2 separate regions of the Homo sapiens genome follow, and region 2 is linked to region 1. The links come from fine-mapping of genetic effects on gene expression. Tissue or cell type: whole blood. Region 1 holds a variant in brackets; the other region holds the start of a gene. All regions are shown on one strand. Distances are from middle to middle.

Region 1 (8,109 bases):
AGTCAAGCCAGAGCCATAAGCAAGATCAACCTGGTAGAGAAGCCAGACGGTGTCGTACTACCTACAGCACCTCTCAACTACGCACTCTCAACAAGGCATTTATGAAAAACCCATACCCTGGGATTGATTCCAGAGAACAAATTGCTAAATAAATTGGTGCTCCAGGCTGGGCATAGTGGCTCACAACTGTAATCCCAACACTTTGGGAGGCTGAGGCGGGTGGATCACCTGAGGTCAGGAGTTCGAAACCAGCCTGACCAACATGGAGAAACCCCATCTCTACTAAAAATACAAAATTAGCCGGGCATGGTGGCACATGCCTGCAATCCCAGCTACTGGGGAGGCTGAGGCGGGAGAATCTCTTGAACCCAAGAGGCAGAGGTTGCGGTGAGCAGAGATCGCACCATTGAACTCCAGTCTGGGCAACAAGAGCGAAACTCTGTCTCAAAAAAAATAAAAGAAAAGAAAAGAAAGAAAGAAATTGGTGCTCCAGAGTCAAGAGTCCAAATTTGGTTCCAAAATCAAAGATCTAGATTTCATCTTCAGAGAAAAAGGGAACCTGTTGTGTCCTTAGAACAAGAAGACCAGGGGCAAGATCTCTGAGGGACTTCAAGGTACAGAAGACACATACAATAGCACCAACCTCACTAGCAACTGTCACTTCCCTAGAGCCAGAACATGGTGAAAACACTCAAGTTCAGTGTATTTAGTATTATCAACTTGGGTCCCAAATCTCTCTCACGGTCTTCCTGGGAGTCGATCCTTCTGCTGAAACTGCAAGCTAAGCCTTCTGAAGAGGGTAAACAACTTGGCCAGGTGCGGTGGCTCATACTTGTAATCTCAGCACTTTGGGAGGCAGAGGTAGGAATATTGCTTGAGCCCAGGAGATTGAAACCAGCCTGAGCAGCACAGCAAGACCCTGTCTCTATGATAAAAAATAAAATAAAATAAATAAAAAGAACTGTAGGAGGCAGAGATAGGTACAAGAGGCATCACACTACCCTACTGACACAGCCTGGATCCAGAGTTCAGCAGACCTTGAGACAATGAAAATAAACTTAATAATAATAGTAATAAAAGACCTCCTTGGGATAACTGGTAAATTATGGAGGCTGAAGATGGCTGCTAGTAAAATGTCAATGCTAATTTTCTGATTTTGACAGCTGTTTTGGGGCTTCTATAAGAGAATGTCCCTGTTTGCAGGAAAGATACTAATGAATTCAAGGGTGAGAAGGCATCAGGCCAACAACTTACTCTCAAGTGATTTCAGAAAATAAAGTCCCTGATACTGGTCTCCCAACCTGTCTGCAAGTAAAAACATCATACACCTTATACCATATACTAAAACTAACTCAAAATGGATCAAATATCTAAATGTAAAAGCTAAAACTATAAAACTCTCAGAAGAAAACATAAAGAAAAAGCTTCATGATTTAGATTTGGCAATGATTTCTTGGATATAATATCAAAAGCACAGGCAACAAAAGCAAAAACAGACGAATTGGATTTCATCAGAATTAAAAACTTCTGTACATCAGAAAACACCACCAACAGAGTGAAAAGGTAATCCACAGGATGAGAGAAAATATTTGCAGATCATCTATCTGTTAAGAAATTAATACACAGAATACATAAAGAACTTCTGCAATTCAACAATAAAAAAAACACAAAGCAATTCAAAACTGGGCAAAGAACTGAAATAGATCTCCAAAGAAGATATACAAATGGCCAAGGAGCACATGAAAAGATGCTCAACATCACTAATCATTAGAGAAACGTAAATCAAAACCACAATGAGATACACTTCACACTTATTAGGATGACCAGTATCAGAAAACACACACACACACACACACAAACACACATACAAAACAGCAAATGTTGGTGAGGATGTGGGGAAATCAGAACCCTTGAGCATTGCCGGTAGGAATGTAAAATGGTACAGACGCTGTGGAAAACAGTATAGTGGTTCCTCAAAAAATTAAACAAAGAACTACCATATGATCCACAACCTGTACCTAGGTATTTACCCAGAGGAATTAAAAGCAGGGTCTTGAAGAGATATTGGTACACCAATGTTAACAGCAGCGCTATTCACAATAATGAAAAAGTGGAAACAACCCAAGTGTGCATGGATAAACGAATGGATAGACAAAATACGGTATACAAGAGAATATTCTGTGGCCATAAAAAGAAAACTCTGACACATGCTATGAACATAAGGCTCAACATGGATGAATCTTGAAGAAATTATGCTAAGTGACATAAGCCAGTCACAAAGGGACAAATACCATATGATTATTCATATGATACTCAGAGTGGTCAAATTCAAAAGGCAGAAAGTATTATAGAAGGGCCGTTGCCAGTGGCTGAAGGGAGAAGAGAATCGGGAATTACTACTTAAGGGTAAAGTTTCAGTTTTGTAAGATAAAAAGAATTCTGTAGATAGGCTGGGAGCAGTGGCTCACACCTGTAATCCCAGCACTTTGGGAGGCCGAAGCGGGTAGATCACTTGAGGTCAGGAGTTTGAGATCAGCCTGGCCAACATGGTGAAACCTCATCTCTACTAAAAATACAAAAATTAGTCAGGCACGGTGACGCATGCCTGTAATCCCAGCTACTCGGGAGGCTGAGGCAGGAGAATTGCTTGAATCTGGGAGATGGAGGTTGCAGTGAGCTGAGATCACTCCACTGTACTCCAGCCTGGGTGACAGAGCGAGACTCCGTCTTAAAAAAAAAAAAAAAAAAATTCTGCAGATAGATGGTGATAATAAAAGTTGCATAACAATGTGAATATACTAATGCCACGAAACTGTATACCTAAAAATTTTAGGTTATGTATAATTAAACACAATTTAAAAAAATCTTCTGACATATACCCACCCAGAGATACCATGTGTAAATGTGGGTAAACATATTTTTGTTAAGTCTGGAAGTAAATACATAGAACTTATTAACGGCGCTACCTCTGAGAATGAGAGTTATTGTCAAAAATATTTTTAGTGTATCTTAAACTTCTAAATTCTTAAAAGAATACTGATTTTATGTATTAGATATAACAAAAATTGATATAAAAATGCTATTTTATGGACTCATGAGAAAAAAGATAGGAAAATAACTGTTTCTATAAAAATACCTTTCTACCCAGGAATACTATAAAAGCTTACTATTAAAAAATAACATTTCTAAATTGTTACTTTCCAGTTAATACACTGCTTTCTTGCTTGGAATTTTTTTTCAAGTAGTAATTATGATAATAAGAGACTCTTCCCAAGAGAAAATGAAGGGGGGCAAAGGGACAACATGAAACTTAAAAAAAAAAAAAAATCCTCAGAGCATAAGGCCAGATCTGGTCTGGATTTCAAAATGAAATTTTATAGAACTTATACTTATCCCCTGAAGGTTTCATGACCCAACAATGACACGAATGGTTAATAATAGCCTTTGCCCTCCCTCTGCAGTCAAACAGCCATGCAATTCCTGAACAGAGCCACTGCCCGGGGGATATTATGTGAGTATCATGTTCCTGACTTAGCAAAGGAGAAGTGGAAAATGGAAACAAGGCCACAAACTCAGATCTTTCCATTACAAAGAAATTGAGGCTTCCGGGCTTCACTTTCATGATTAAAAATAGAAAAAGAAATTGACTTCACATTTTATGGAAAATAGTCAAACGAATATATTTTCTGTGAAGAATATTCATAGACATGCCATTCTTTTGTGTTTCGTTTTGACAGAAATAATTGCGATGGTGGAGCTAGTGAGGTATAAAGTGGCTGCTGCGAGACTCTTGACCAGCTAGCAGCAAGAG[GC/C]ACGCTGGAGCCCACAGTAGGACAACCTTCTCCAGTCCTGACTTCCACTCCGCCTCTGGAGCAGCTGCCTCCCTTCTGACAATGACTTTCCATAATTTCCAAGCTCAATGAACACCAGGAAACATACTTTTCCAAAAATAAATCTTTCTTTTTCTGACAAGCTCCTATGACAGACATTTAGAAATTTCCCTGAAAATATTAGCTACAATAGTATACATAAATCAAATTCAATATACATGTTTCTTGGGCTTTTTACAGTATCTTTTTAAAATTAATGTTTTTGTATTTGGGGGAAAACTGGGCAATAGTGAAACACTTGGCTTCATGTTGACCAGGAAAAAGGAGACTGCTTCCCTGAACTTGCTTGCTTTTTTTTTTTTTTTTCTTAAAAAAAAAACCATCAAACAAGTTCTGGCTTTTGTGTCCAGACTGTGCCCAAGGATCACTAAAAACCAGGGGTGAGCATCGCACTCCTTGATGTCCAATGTCTGATGTCATCATAGAAACTCATGCCATGGAATCCCTCCACCATGCTGGCCTTGGAGGCAAGAATGGGGTCATTCCTGCAGTGAACTGTGGGAGGTTGAACTTTACAATATTACTCTCTAATGCTCAAGCCACAGTATGAAAGAACCAAACATGAGTCACTGACAGAAAAGCTCTACTGTGGAAGGCAGAATATGAGAGTGGTTGAGGGCCTCCAAAGTGTATCCAGAATCTTTCCACAGCTCCTAAATGCCCTCTCTGCCACCCTGTCACAAGCCACACATCCCCCGATCCTGAGCCTACACTAAACCCAGTCTCATCCATCTCTGCAAACACAAATCAGAGCTCTCAACATTCTAACAGGTCTTTGGCTTACTAACAATAAAAGCCAAATTCCTTACCTTGGCCCATGAGGCCTTGTTCCATCAACCCCAGGTCACAGCTCTGGCCTCAGGTTCTGCCCCTCTCCCTGTCACCCTCCAAGCTCCAGCCACACTGGCCTTTCTTCCACCAGTCACCCTAGAGCTCTGCATCTGCTGACCCCTCTGTCTGGCACTCTTCCTTCAGTCTTCACTGGCTCCCTCTTATCTCAGCATCCTTCCCTAGCGCTTGCACCTAAGGGGACTTCTAGCCAACAGCATTCTCTACACCTAACCCTGTTTGATTTCTTTATATCATCAGAATTTTAAATTATACTTGTTTTTGTTTTTGTTTGTTTCTCCACTAGAATGGAAGCTTCATGAGGGTACAATGTTGTTTCAGTGCTGGACCTACATGCAGGGCCAGCACAGAGCAAGCACCCAATAATAATCTGCTGGATAAAGGTATTGGATGAGTAGGTAGTGGACAGGTGAGTGGATGGATAGATGGATGGATGGATGGATGGATGGATGGATGGATGGATGGATGGGCAGATGGAGGGACATATGGGTGGATGGATAAATGGATAAATGAACAAGCAAGCAAACAAACAAATGAGCATGAGCTTTTTATTCAAGGGCATTACCACTACGAAATCCTTGCCACACCACGTGATGGGGAGCCAAAGGCAGGAAGAAAGGCCTCGCCTGGATGGGCACTGAGGTAAGCATCATGTGTGAAGAGCTACCTATCTGAAATGAACCTTAAAAGATGGGGAAGATGTCAGCAGGTAGAGACAGGGAAGGAGTTCATTTCAGGTGGATGAGCAGAGACACAAAGGAGAAAAAATTGTGATACTTATTCATGAAACAATAAATAATCTGCAGGAAACTAGTCTACAATTCATTGTGAAAAGCTTTTACCATGAACTGAATAGGTAATAATACATCATAAAATATGAGCCCTTAACAATTTCCCATGTGTGTTTAAATGTAAATGATCAGCTAACTGCCCATGGAAGCCTCCACATTCATGAATTTCATTAAACTACAATTTCCATGCAGAGGCTAAGATGTCGATCACCCTGGGTTTTTATTCTAGTTCCATTAACACTTCGACAGATGAGTAAGGCATTCCATGTCTGGTACTCAGAAAGCCAAGAAAACTATAAATTACTTTCAACTACAAGTCTTAAAGTGGCTACACTGCTACAATCTTGCACACTCATTGAGCAATCCACATGTTGGGCTCATCTCTCCTAGGAAAAAAGTTATTACCCCAGCATATGCCTCAATGTCACCCAGTAGAGCGGCTGATCATCAGTCACTAACATATTGAGCTGTTGTTGCTGCATCGGCTTTTCCCTGACACATCTGTAATTGCGTTGAGAAGGCACCATATTCTGGAAACATTTTCATCACTGCCTGTGTGGCAGGGGGAAGGGGTGTTGGGAGACTGAGGGCTCGTTGATGAATAAGAACAGACTCACATGTGACCTCAATAATCAAGCAAAGCCATCTTGTTTCCTGGCAGCTGCAGTAACATAGGTTGTAAAGTATTTTTAGACAGTTGGGGGTGAGGAAGGGAGGGCAGGGTGGTCCAGAAGAAACCAACACCTGGAGCAGATGATCACTGCAAGGCCTGATTCTCTCTATTCCAGTAGTTCCCAAATGTCAGTGTGCTTAGGAGCACACAAAGACCTGGTTAGAAACATAAATGGGCTACTCTTCTGCCTTCCTCATCCAGACACTCCAGGAACTCTGGCTCAGAAAACCTGGGTGGGCCCAGGACCCTGCATTTTAGTAAGCACCATGGGTGGCTTGATGCCAGTGGTCCTCAGTCTGCCGTTTGAGGAACACTACCACCAACCCCTGGATAACTTTGATAGAGAAAGAATGTGTAATCTCTGCACACAACAGTCCCCAGTCCACCAGCCTCTTCACTTCTTGGGACCTCCAGAGAATGTGACAAAAGTCCTGGTCCCCTTTTTCCCAGCAAAAGGCACTTGCACACATCCACACATACAAAACTTGTGGGATAAGCTCAGGCCAGTCTGTGAGCCCCTAAGAGTCTACTTGATCCAACTCACACCCCACTGACCCATCCTAACCTTCTCTTTAAGATTAAAAAAGATAACTACCTCATCAGTCATTACAGACTACACCTATACTGCGGCAAGCTGGCAAACACCTCTGTGTAGATAAGGGTTTTATCTATGCCTGTAAAAAAAGTATAGCAAGTGCTGCATTTTTTAGAATTCTATCACTTCCAGATCTTTCATTCTCTCTCCATTACTAAAGCAAATGTTTCGGCAAGGTTTTCTGCAAAACACCACTGACTGGCAGAACATTTTTCTACAATTACCCGGGACTGTGAAGCTCCTGGTAAATCACTTAACAAGCTAAGAATTCCCAATTAAAATACTGAGTCTGTTTAACTAAATTATTGCTATGCACAATGTATAAATCCATGGAAGGAAAAACTCTACCTCTCTCCCTTCAGAATAAAAAGGATGCTGTTAATCTTTGGCAGGTCAAGTCAGCAAGGTAAGGAGTTCGTTTTTTTTTAACACACACACAAATGAGATTATAAGATTAAAATAACTAGGAATCTGCCCAAAACACATATACAGGAACAAACAAATAAAGCCCTTAAACCTTAAATGCACTACCCCATTAGTGTCCTGAGAGACTGGTTTAAAGCAAAACAGATATTTTGCTCTGGTTGGAGATTAGAAATGTCTTATGTGTCAATGGTAGAAAAGAAACAGATCCTAGTTTTTAATTTACCAGACATATTCCAGTAGAAGAGAAAAAAACTCTTTTCAATTTTTGCAATTTCCTTAACCTGTGCTATGGATTTAAGATGGTAAGGTGAAAGTCAATTGATTAATCAATTCATCAATGGGTCCCCAACAAAGAGACAGTCATGCCAGCCTTGTAAAGGCTTCTTTTTAAGCCCACTATGAGCTGACTTAGGACAACCATCTATTTGGAAACAAATTAAAGTGATAAAAGTGATCCCTTACAGCTCTCCACCAGGAAGAAAAACATCTACTAAGCTCCCACCCTTTCATACCAAATATTCATGCAATAGGCAGGCATTCCCCCAGGCACTGACAAGGACTCAGGATAAATTCTGACTGTGCAGAGCAGTGGGCTGGGCTGAGTGAGGTCAGGAGCTCCACCATCTCTACACCCAACTCACTCCCCAGAGGGCTGAGCTGATCTCATAATTCATGGAAAGCAGGTGCTCAGACAGAAAGGATCAGAAATCCAGGTGATTCCATGTGTGGTGAGAGGTCTGGCCAGGTGGCGCCCTAGCCCTGGTAGGAGGCCTTCCATGTGGCAGCCTACGTCCCAGAAGTCAGCGTCACTGACAAAGACTGCACAACAGCAACAACTCTGTAATGAGGACGCTTTGCTGAGTTCCCACTTCTGTTTTGGTGATA
Region 2 (8,109 bases), 52 kb after region 1:
CAATTGGGGGTTGGTTTGCTCATTTGCATTGCTTCAGAAAAAGCCTTTGGCTTTATTTGTTCTTTGAATAAATCAACATTACTTTCTTACAATATTGATATACTTTCTAAATTTTTCCCAAAGTATGTTTTAAAAAATAAAGGTCATGAAGTTATATCTATCATCAAAGTAAGGATTATATATTTTAGAAAATATGAGAAACATGAAAAAAAGAACAAAGGTAAGTACTTTAATATTTTAATGATTTCCTTTTAATATTGTATCTATTCATACATTTTAATTCATATTTGTTTTCAACTACTATAATAACATTGCATATAAATTTTTATAATAATATTGCATAAGAATTTTTTCATGTCATAACCTTTTCCTAAACACCTTTTAATAGATTCAGCTCATCAAGTAGACTGATTAACCATTCCATCTTGCTGGACATATGGCTTCTTTCAAAATTTTCACCTCAGTAAATAACAGTGTAGTGAAAATCTTCGTACACTAAAGCCTTTTCTACAGTTAGGATTATCTGCTTAGATTCTAGAATCACTGTCAAAGAATTTTGACAGTTTTATAATTATCTTAACATGAAACAAATTATGGCCCAAAGTCTATATATGACACAGAGACTGCTGTCTTATTTTGGAGCAGTTTTGTCCCCCCTCCAGGGACAAGTAGAAGGACTAGGAGATTCAAAAGGATTTTTTATTATAAGTAAATGGATCACCAAGGGAAAAAATCTGAGAATCACCACTTTGAACAAAAGATCAAAGGGCTGGAAAAGACTGAGATGTTTGGTCAATTTTTCTACCTACTAGTGGCATCAGACCTGAGATCTCTACTTCAAGAATTCATAACCTTTGAAGTTAACCTAGTTAAACCCAAACATTTTAGATCCTCTTCCAACACTGTTCACAGACATCAAATTTTAGCTGCTGACAATGAATGATGGGACATGGGGGTTATTGCCCTATTCCGTCTGTTAATATGTTTGAAATGTGCCATAATAAACTTTTAAAAATTAGATTATCACAGTACCCAACCTAAGGCATCAAAATGTGTTTGATCAAGCTGGGTGCAGTGGCTCATGCCTGTAATCCCAGCACTTTGGGAAGCCGAGGCAGGCAAATCACTTGAGGCCAGGAATTTGAGACCAGCCTAGTCAACATGGCAAAACCCTGTCTCCACTAAAAATACAAAAAAATTAGCCAGGCACAGTGGCGCGCACCTGTAAGACCAGCTACTCAGGACACAGAGGCATGAGAATCGCTTGAACCCAGGAGGCAGAGGCTGCAGTGATCAGAGATGGCACCACTGTACTCCAGCCTCGGCAACAGAGCAAGACTCTCTCAAAACAAAAACAAAACCAATTAGCCAATTGGAGAAATCTGATGGACTGGGCATCAAATGATATTACAGGGTTACTATAAAAAAAAATGTGTTTGACCAATCACATAAATTGAATATACCACATAGTAAAATGTGTGACTCCTAAGCTGGACATAGCGGTGGCGGCACACGCCTGTAGTCTAACTACTCAGGATGCTGAAACTAAAGGATCACTTGAGCCCAAGCGTTTGAGGTTGTAGTAAGCTATAATAGTGCCACTGCACTCCAGCCTGGGTGACAGAGCAAGACCCCATCTCTAAAACAAACAAACCATAAATGCATAAATTTAAAATAAATGTGAAGTCAACCAACTATTTTAAAATAAAATAAAATGTGTGACTCCTGATAATCTATGCTGTCCTGACCATAAAACAGGAAGTTAACATTTTAGAACCCCTAAAATAAAATGCCATTCAAACACAGCCACATTTCAGTGAAACCAGCCACATTTTAAAGGAATCAGAAAATCCCTTTCCATTACAATGCAACTAGAAGGCCTGCATAAGTGGAGGGCCCTTCTAACAGAATTCCACAGTTCCCCAACCCAGAATTCCCGAATTATTTACACTTTCCCATAATTAACACCCTTATCTTTTTTAATATGCAGGTTTGGTTGTTTTAACTGAAAGCATATAACTTAAATAGTGAACCAAAATAACCCAAACTCTTATTCAGCACATCTCACAGAATACACATTTTCAATATTCCAGATTAGCAGGATGGAGAGTTCAGGAGAGAGATCAAAATTTAAATCTGTCAGTGACGACCACACACAGCAGCAGACTGCAAGGTTCTTCTCAATAATGCAAAACATCTTTCATCTATGAATTTTCCCAGTTTTCATGAATTTAAATATCTACAGAAATGTTATAAAAGCTTTAAAATTCCTAAATCCCAGTGCTACTCTATTCCCTATTATTCCAGGACCATTTCCAAAACCAAAGCTACCAGAACAGCTTAGAAATCATTAGGCGGGGTTGAAAAATAGACTCTTAGATTTAAATATACGGTTTTGGTGGGTTTGGTTGTTTCTTTAGGGTTTTTTGTTGTTTTTGTTTTGTTTTGTTTTTTGTTTTGGGGTTTTGTTTGTTTGTTGTTTTTTGAGACAGAGTCTCGCTCTGTCGCCCAGGCTGGAGGTTACTGGCACAATCTCGGCTCACTGCAACCTCTGCCTCCCGGGTTCAAGCGATTCTCCTACCTCAGCCTCCCGAGTAGCTGGGATTATAGGCACCAACCACCGCTCCCGGCTAATTTTTGTATTTGTAGTAGAGATAGGGTTTCTCTATGTTGGCCAGGCTGGTCTCGAACTCCTGGCCTCAGGTGATCTGCCCGCCTTGGCCTCCCAAAGAGCTGGGATTACAGGTGTGAGCCACAGCCCCCGGCCTGTTTTGTTTTTAATTCATACTTTTGTGGACACAAGAACGCATATTTGGTGCAGACTGGCTCCAAGGACAGGATATCTGAAATTATTTGAACTGAAACAATATAGTTGTGCCAATAAAGACAGAAAAGACTAAAGACAATATAAAGCTTGTCATTTAAATGTTTTTTAAAAAATATCTTTCGTACCGTGGTTTTCTTAAAACGACTACTTTATCTACACTAATCATCTGGACCTCTGATGCCCAACCGAGACGAAAGTGCTGAGTGATGACCAGGGGTCGGGTAGCTTGGTCCACAAGAAAAAGAGAAATGTTTTCATCTTGAATTCTTTAGATCCCGACCCCTCCGCGCAGAGTTCAGCGGGCGAGGGCGAGGGGCGTCCTGGGCAGGGGGCGCCCCTCATCCAGCCTAGGCTCCAGTCACGTACGTGCACGCAACTGTCAAAGCTCAGCCCAAGGAGCAACTCTCCGCATCTGTGCATTTCATCCTGAGTCAAGCCCCATAAAAATTGGAATACGTAAAAATGGGCAAAAATTGAACATTTAAAATACAGCAGTGAAAAGGGAGGAGTGCCTGCTCCGGAAATGCTCTAAGCGTGGTTCATCAACACTCCCTGAAGAGCGGACCACGGAGATGCTCCGAGGCTCCGCCATCCCGCACGCAGGACAAAGGTGCTGAGAATGAGGCGCGCTGGTCCTGCACCCTCTGCCGAGAGCCGGAAGCCAGGGGCGCGCCGGGGCCGGTCGGGCACGTGCAGGGGGCTCTCCGGCCGCCGCGCTGCCCCGAAGCCGGCCCTGGGGACTCGCGGCTGCGCGGACCGAGCTCGCGAAGGGGACCAGGCTCGCGGAGGGGCCGCAGCGGCCCCAAGGATGGCGCAGGAAGACCCCCCACGCAAGACAGCCGGTCGCGGGGGTCAGGGGCGGCTCCTCCCGGGCCCGGCCCCGCCCGACTGACCTGTGACGCTGGCCCGGGTGACGCGCTGCACCACGGCCTTCATGGCGGCGGCTGGGGCGAGTGGGGCGGCGCCGCGCTGCGTCCGGCCTCGCGACTCTGAGGGCGGCTCCGCAGCCGGCGCCCTCTGGAGGTGACACCCGGAAGCGCGCCCAACTGGCCGGTCCGACTCGGTCGGCTGCTACCCACCCCACGTCGGCCACGCCCACTCTCGGCCTGGCGATAGGCCCACCCACTCATAGATTGACTCCGCCTATGCCTGCCACGCCCACCTGCTGCCCAACCGTAACCCCGCCCGTCATTGAAAAGCCCAGTCCCCACGCTCGGCCCTGCCCCATCCACATCTGGGTCCCGCCAGAGCCCTTTGATCCCCCCATCCCGGGCCCAGCCCCTACCCAGTGCCCAGAACCCACTCTGCCCCGAAGGTAGTCTCTATGCTGGTTTTTTTCTCCCACATACCCGAACCTAAGAACCCGTCATCACTAAGCCTTTAAATTCAGCCTGAATCCTATTTCTAATTGTATTCCTCTTTCCTCTTCCACTCCTCTGCACGCAGATCCTCCCAAATTCTTCTTCCTTGTCTTCCTGCCTCAGTGGCTTTTCAGATACCACATACAAAAGGATCTGCTGCCTAAAATAGCCATTTACCTATCTCACTATTAATTCGACTTAGCCATGTCATGATAATAAATAGGTATGTGATTCTAGAATTCTAATTTCTCATGTAATATAAATGCTACTAATTGGCCCCCTCACTGGGTTGTTAGATTTAAATGAACCAAACCACGTAAAAGTGCTTAGATGGCAGCAAAGGGCTGTACAACTATTACCCCAACAAATTATTATCATTGCTAAAAATAATTCCATCTCAGCAGTCTTCACCTTAAAGGTGACTAATAGCATTGGTGGGCGTAGAAAAGGCACTGAAATTGAGAAGAAACCCTCACTTGCCCAGAAAAGACTACAAACTAGTGTGCTTGTTTGTTAAATACTGAATACTAAATTGCCTTAATAACGTTGTCAAAGTTAACATAACCAGTAACAAGACATCATGTGCCTCCTGATATTGCACTGGGAAGGACACAACATCAATCTTGTGGTATTTCTGCCAAATAATGTATAACCTGAATCCAATCATGATGAAACATAGGACAAAAATAAATTGAGGAACATTCTACAAAATAACCAGGTAGGATTCCGAGAATTAAGGAGGATTTTTTTTTTTTTTTTTTTTGAGATGCAGTTTTGCTCTTGTGGCCCAGGCTGAAGTGCAATGGTGTGATCTTGGCTATCCACAACTTCTGCCTCCTGGGTTCAAGCAATTCTTCTGCCTCAACCTCCTGAGTAGCTGGGATTACAAGCATGCGCCGCCACGCCCGGCTAATTTTGTATTTTTATTAAAGATGAGATTTCTCCATGTTGGTCAGGCTGGTCTCGAACTCCCGACCTCAGGTGATCTGCCCGCTTTGGCCTCCCAAAGTGCTGGGATTACAGGCATGAGCCACTGCGCCCAGCCGTGGACTTTTTAAAAGACAGGAAAACTACCTGTAATCCCAGCACTTTGGGAGGTCAAGGTGGGCGGATCATTGGAGGTCAGGAGTTCGAGGCCTGCCTGGCCAACATGGTGAAACCCCGTCTCTACTAAAAATACAAAAATTAGCCAGGCATGGCAGCGCATGCCTGTAATCCCAGCTACTCGGGAGGCTGAGGCAAGAAAATTGCTTGAACCCGGGAGGCGGAGGTTACGGTGAGCCGATATCGTGCCACTGCACTCCAGCCTGGGTGACAAAGCAAGACTCTGTCTCAAAAAAAAAAAAAAAAAAAAAAAAGACAGGAAAACTAAATTAACCTGGGTGGTATCCTGGCCAGAAAAATCAAGAAAAGGAAAAGCTTATTATTGGAACAACTGGTAAAATTTGAGTTTTTGAAAAATCAGCAGGTCTCAATATTTTGATCACAGGATCCCTTTACATTCTTAAAAATTATTGGGCACAAAGTATAGCTTTTGTTTAGGTGGATTATATCTAAAAATGTTTACTGTTTTTAACTAAGAGAAATAGTTAACATGGATTTATCAATGCATTTAAAAATAGCAATAATAAATCCCCTACATATGAATATCAGAGCAATGAAGTCACTATATGTCACGGAGCCCCTGGAAAACTCCATTGTGCACTCCTGAAAGAATAAGACTAAAAAAGGGAAAATTGGGCTGGTCGTGGTGGTTCACGCCTGTAATTCCAGCACTTTGGGAGGCTGAGGCAGGTGGATCACTTGAGGTCAGGAGTTCAAGACCAGCCTGGCCAACATGGTGAAACCCCATCTCTACTAAAAATACAAAAATTAGCCAGGCGTGATGGTGGGCACCTATAATCCCAGCTACTTGGGAGGCTGAGGCACAGGAATCACTTGAAACCGAGAGGCGGAGGTTGCAGTGAGCCAGGATCACTGCCACTGCACTCCAGCCTGGGTGACAAAGTAAACCTGTGTCTCAAAAAAAAAAAAAAAAGTTAACATACTTAAAATGGAATTCAAAATGTTCACCCCTATGGTACAATAAAGACTTTGGCCTTTGTTAATTCTGGGTTTCTGGCATGGAGCTTTAAAAATTCTTGGAATTTCTCAAGAGACAGGAGTATCTTTGTTATTCATGAGCTCCTTGATTATTCCTGAGTTTACTAACAAGACAATTCAGATTGGGAGCTGGTCACTGGAAAGACCAATAGTGACTGGATGTCTGAGCCAGCCCAACCTGTGGGAGGGGTAGAAGACAGAGATTGAGTTCAACCTGTGGCCAATGATTCAATCAGTCATGCTTACATGATGAAATCCCAGGAAAGACTCTGGACATTGAAGCTTCATTGAGCTTCCTGGTTGCTGAACACATTGATGTGCTGGGAGGGTAATGGCCCTGATTCCGCAGGGAGAAAGCACAGAGGCTCTGTGTTTGGTACTCTCGCAGACCTTGCCTAACATATCTCATTTGACTGGTCCTAATTTGTATTATTTATAATAAAACTATAAATGATAATTACAGCACTTTCCTCAGTTCCATGAGTGATTCTAGTGCATTATCAACCCTAGGGAGTCATGGATACTCCTGACTGTGTAGCCAGTTGGTCTGAAGTGCAAGTGGTTTGGGGACACCCAAGTGTGGTTGGCACCTGAAATAGGGGCAATCTTTTTGGGAAACGTACCCTTAAACTTGCAGGATCTGTTCTAACTCCAGGTGATTCCTGCCAGAGTTGAACTGCAATTCACCAGTTGGTGTTCAATGAACCCCGAAGCCCTTCATACTCCACCATAAGAGTCATACCTTTTTTTTTTTTTTTTTTTTTGGAGACAGAGTCTCGCTCTGTCACCCAGGCTGGAGTGCAATGGCTCGTTCTGGCTCACTGCAACCTCCACCTTCCAGGCTCAAGTGATTCTCCTGCCTCAGACTTCTGAGTAGCTGGGATTACAGGTGCTGCCACCATGCCCAGCTAATTTTTGTATTTTTAGTAGAGATGGGGTTTCACCATGTTGGCCAGGCTGTTCTCAAACTCCTCACCTCAAGTAATCCGCCTGCCGTGGCCTCCCAAAGTGCTGGGATTACAGGCATGGGCCATCGCACCTGGAAAATCCCCACTTAAATAAGTGGCTCCACTTGTTTACTGGAGCCAGAAGTAACCTGTGATTGCTCTCTTCCCCATTCCCTAAGTATCTCGTCCATCAGCAAATCTTCTCCCTCTCCAAAACCTATCCCAAAGTGCCCTCTTCTCTCCATCCCTCCTGCAGCATCCTGCTCCACCATTCTTTCCCACTTGGATTTCTACCACACCTTCCTCACTGGTCTTCCTACCTCCCCTTTGTCCTTCTCCAATCCATTCTCCAGGCACAGATGAAAGTGATGCTCTTAGAATATAAAGTCTTAACAATCCAGACTCTGACCACCTTTAAATTCCTCAAATAGTCTTTGGTTGCTAGCTCAGGACTTTAGGATCTGCTCTTGCTCCACCTGGAACAGGTAGGTTCCTCTACATTCATTCACTCTTTGTACAACACACTCCTCTCCTGCCTTTAGGTATTCAGCTTCAATGCCACCTCCTCAGATAGACCTTCTCTGTCCACACCAAGAAAAGTAGGTGTTCCTGCTCCCTGTTTTTCTCATGTTTGTCCTGTGGGTTTTCTCTCATAATCTTCTGGCTACTTTCAATGAGTCTATTTGCCTGGTAAGCTGTGTTCTTCTACCTGTGTCTCTCATGCTTACCACTGAATCCTCAGCATCTAACACAGTACCTGGGGCTCAGGTAATATTGCCAAAGGAATAAGTGTGAGAAGCCAATTTTTTGGCTTAACAGTGTATCATGGATTTACAGTATTTCTCTATTAATAGATGTGCAGATGCTAAGA

Evidence for each region. PIP is the estimated chance that this variant, and not a neighbour inherited with it, causes the effect.
Region 2: it holds the start of DTD1, and the variant in region 1 is fine-mapped to the expression of DTD1 in whole blood (TOPMed, PIP above 0.99).

The regions. Positions count from the first base shown.
Region 1 is chr20:18,635,270-18,643,378 of GRCh38, reverse strand. All of the region lies in intron 4 of DTD1 (D-aminoacyl-tRNA deacylase 1), which reads right to left. It also overlaps the pseudogene DUXAP7. Among named protein-coding and RNA genes, the nearest start is that of DTD1, 51 kb to the right of the region's middle. The variant GC/C (reference allele first, on the strand shown) is at 3,812.
Region 2 is chr20:18,583,727-18,591,835 of GRCh38, reverse strand. It overlaps DTD1 (D-aminoacyl-tRNA deacylase 1), which reads right to left and starts at 3,782. Exons shown (of 6, transcript NM_080820.6): 1 at 3,721-3,782. The coding sequence starts at 3,763. LOC124904878 (a long non-coding RNA gene) reads left to right here and starts at 4,371. Exons shown (of 3, transcript XR_007067547.1): 1 at 4,371-4,411; 2 at 7,592-7,723. RefSeq lists enhancers at 3,246-3,305, 3,146-3,645, 6,317-6,611 and a silencer at 3,416-3,955.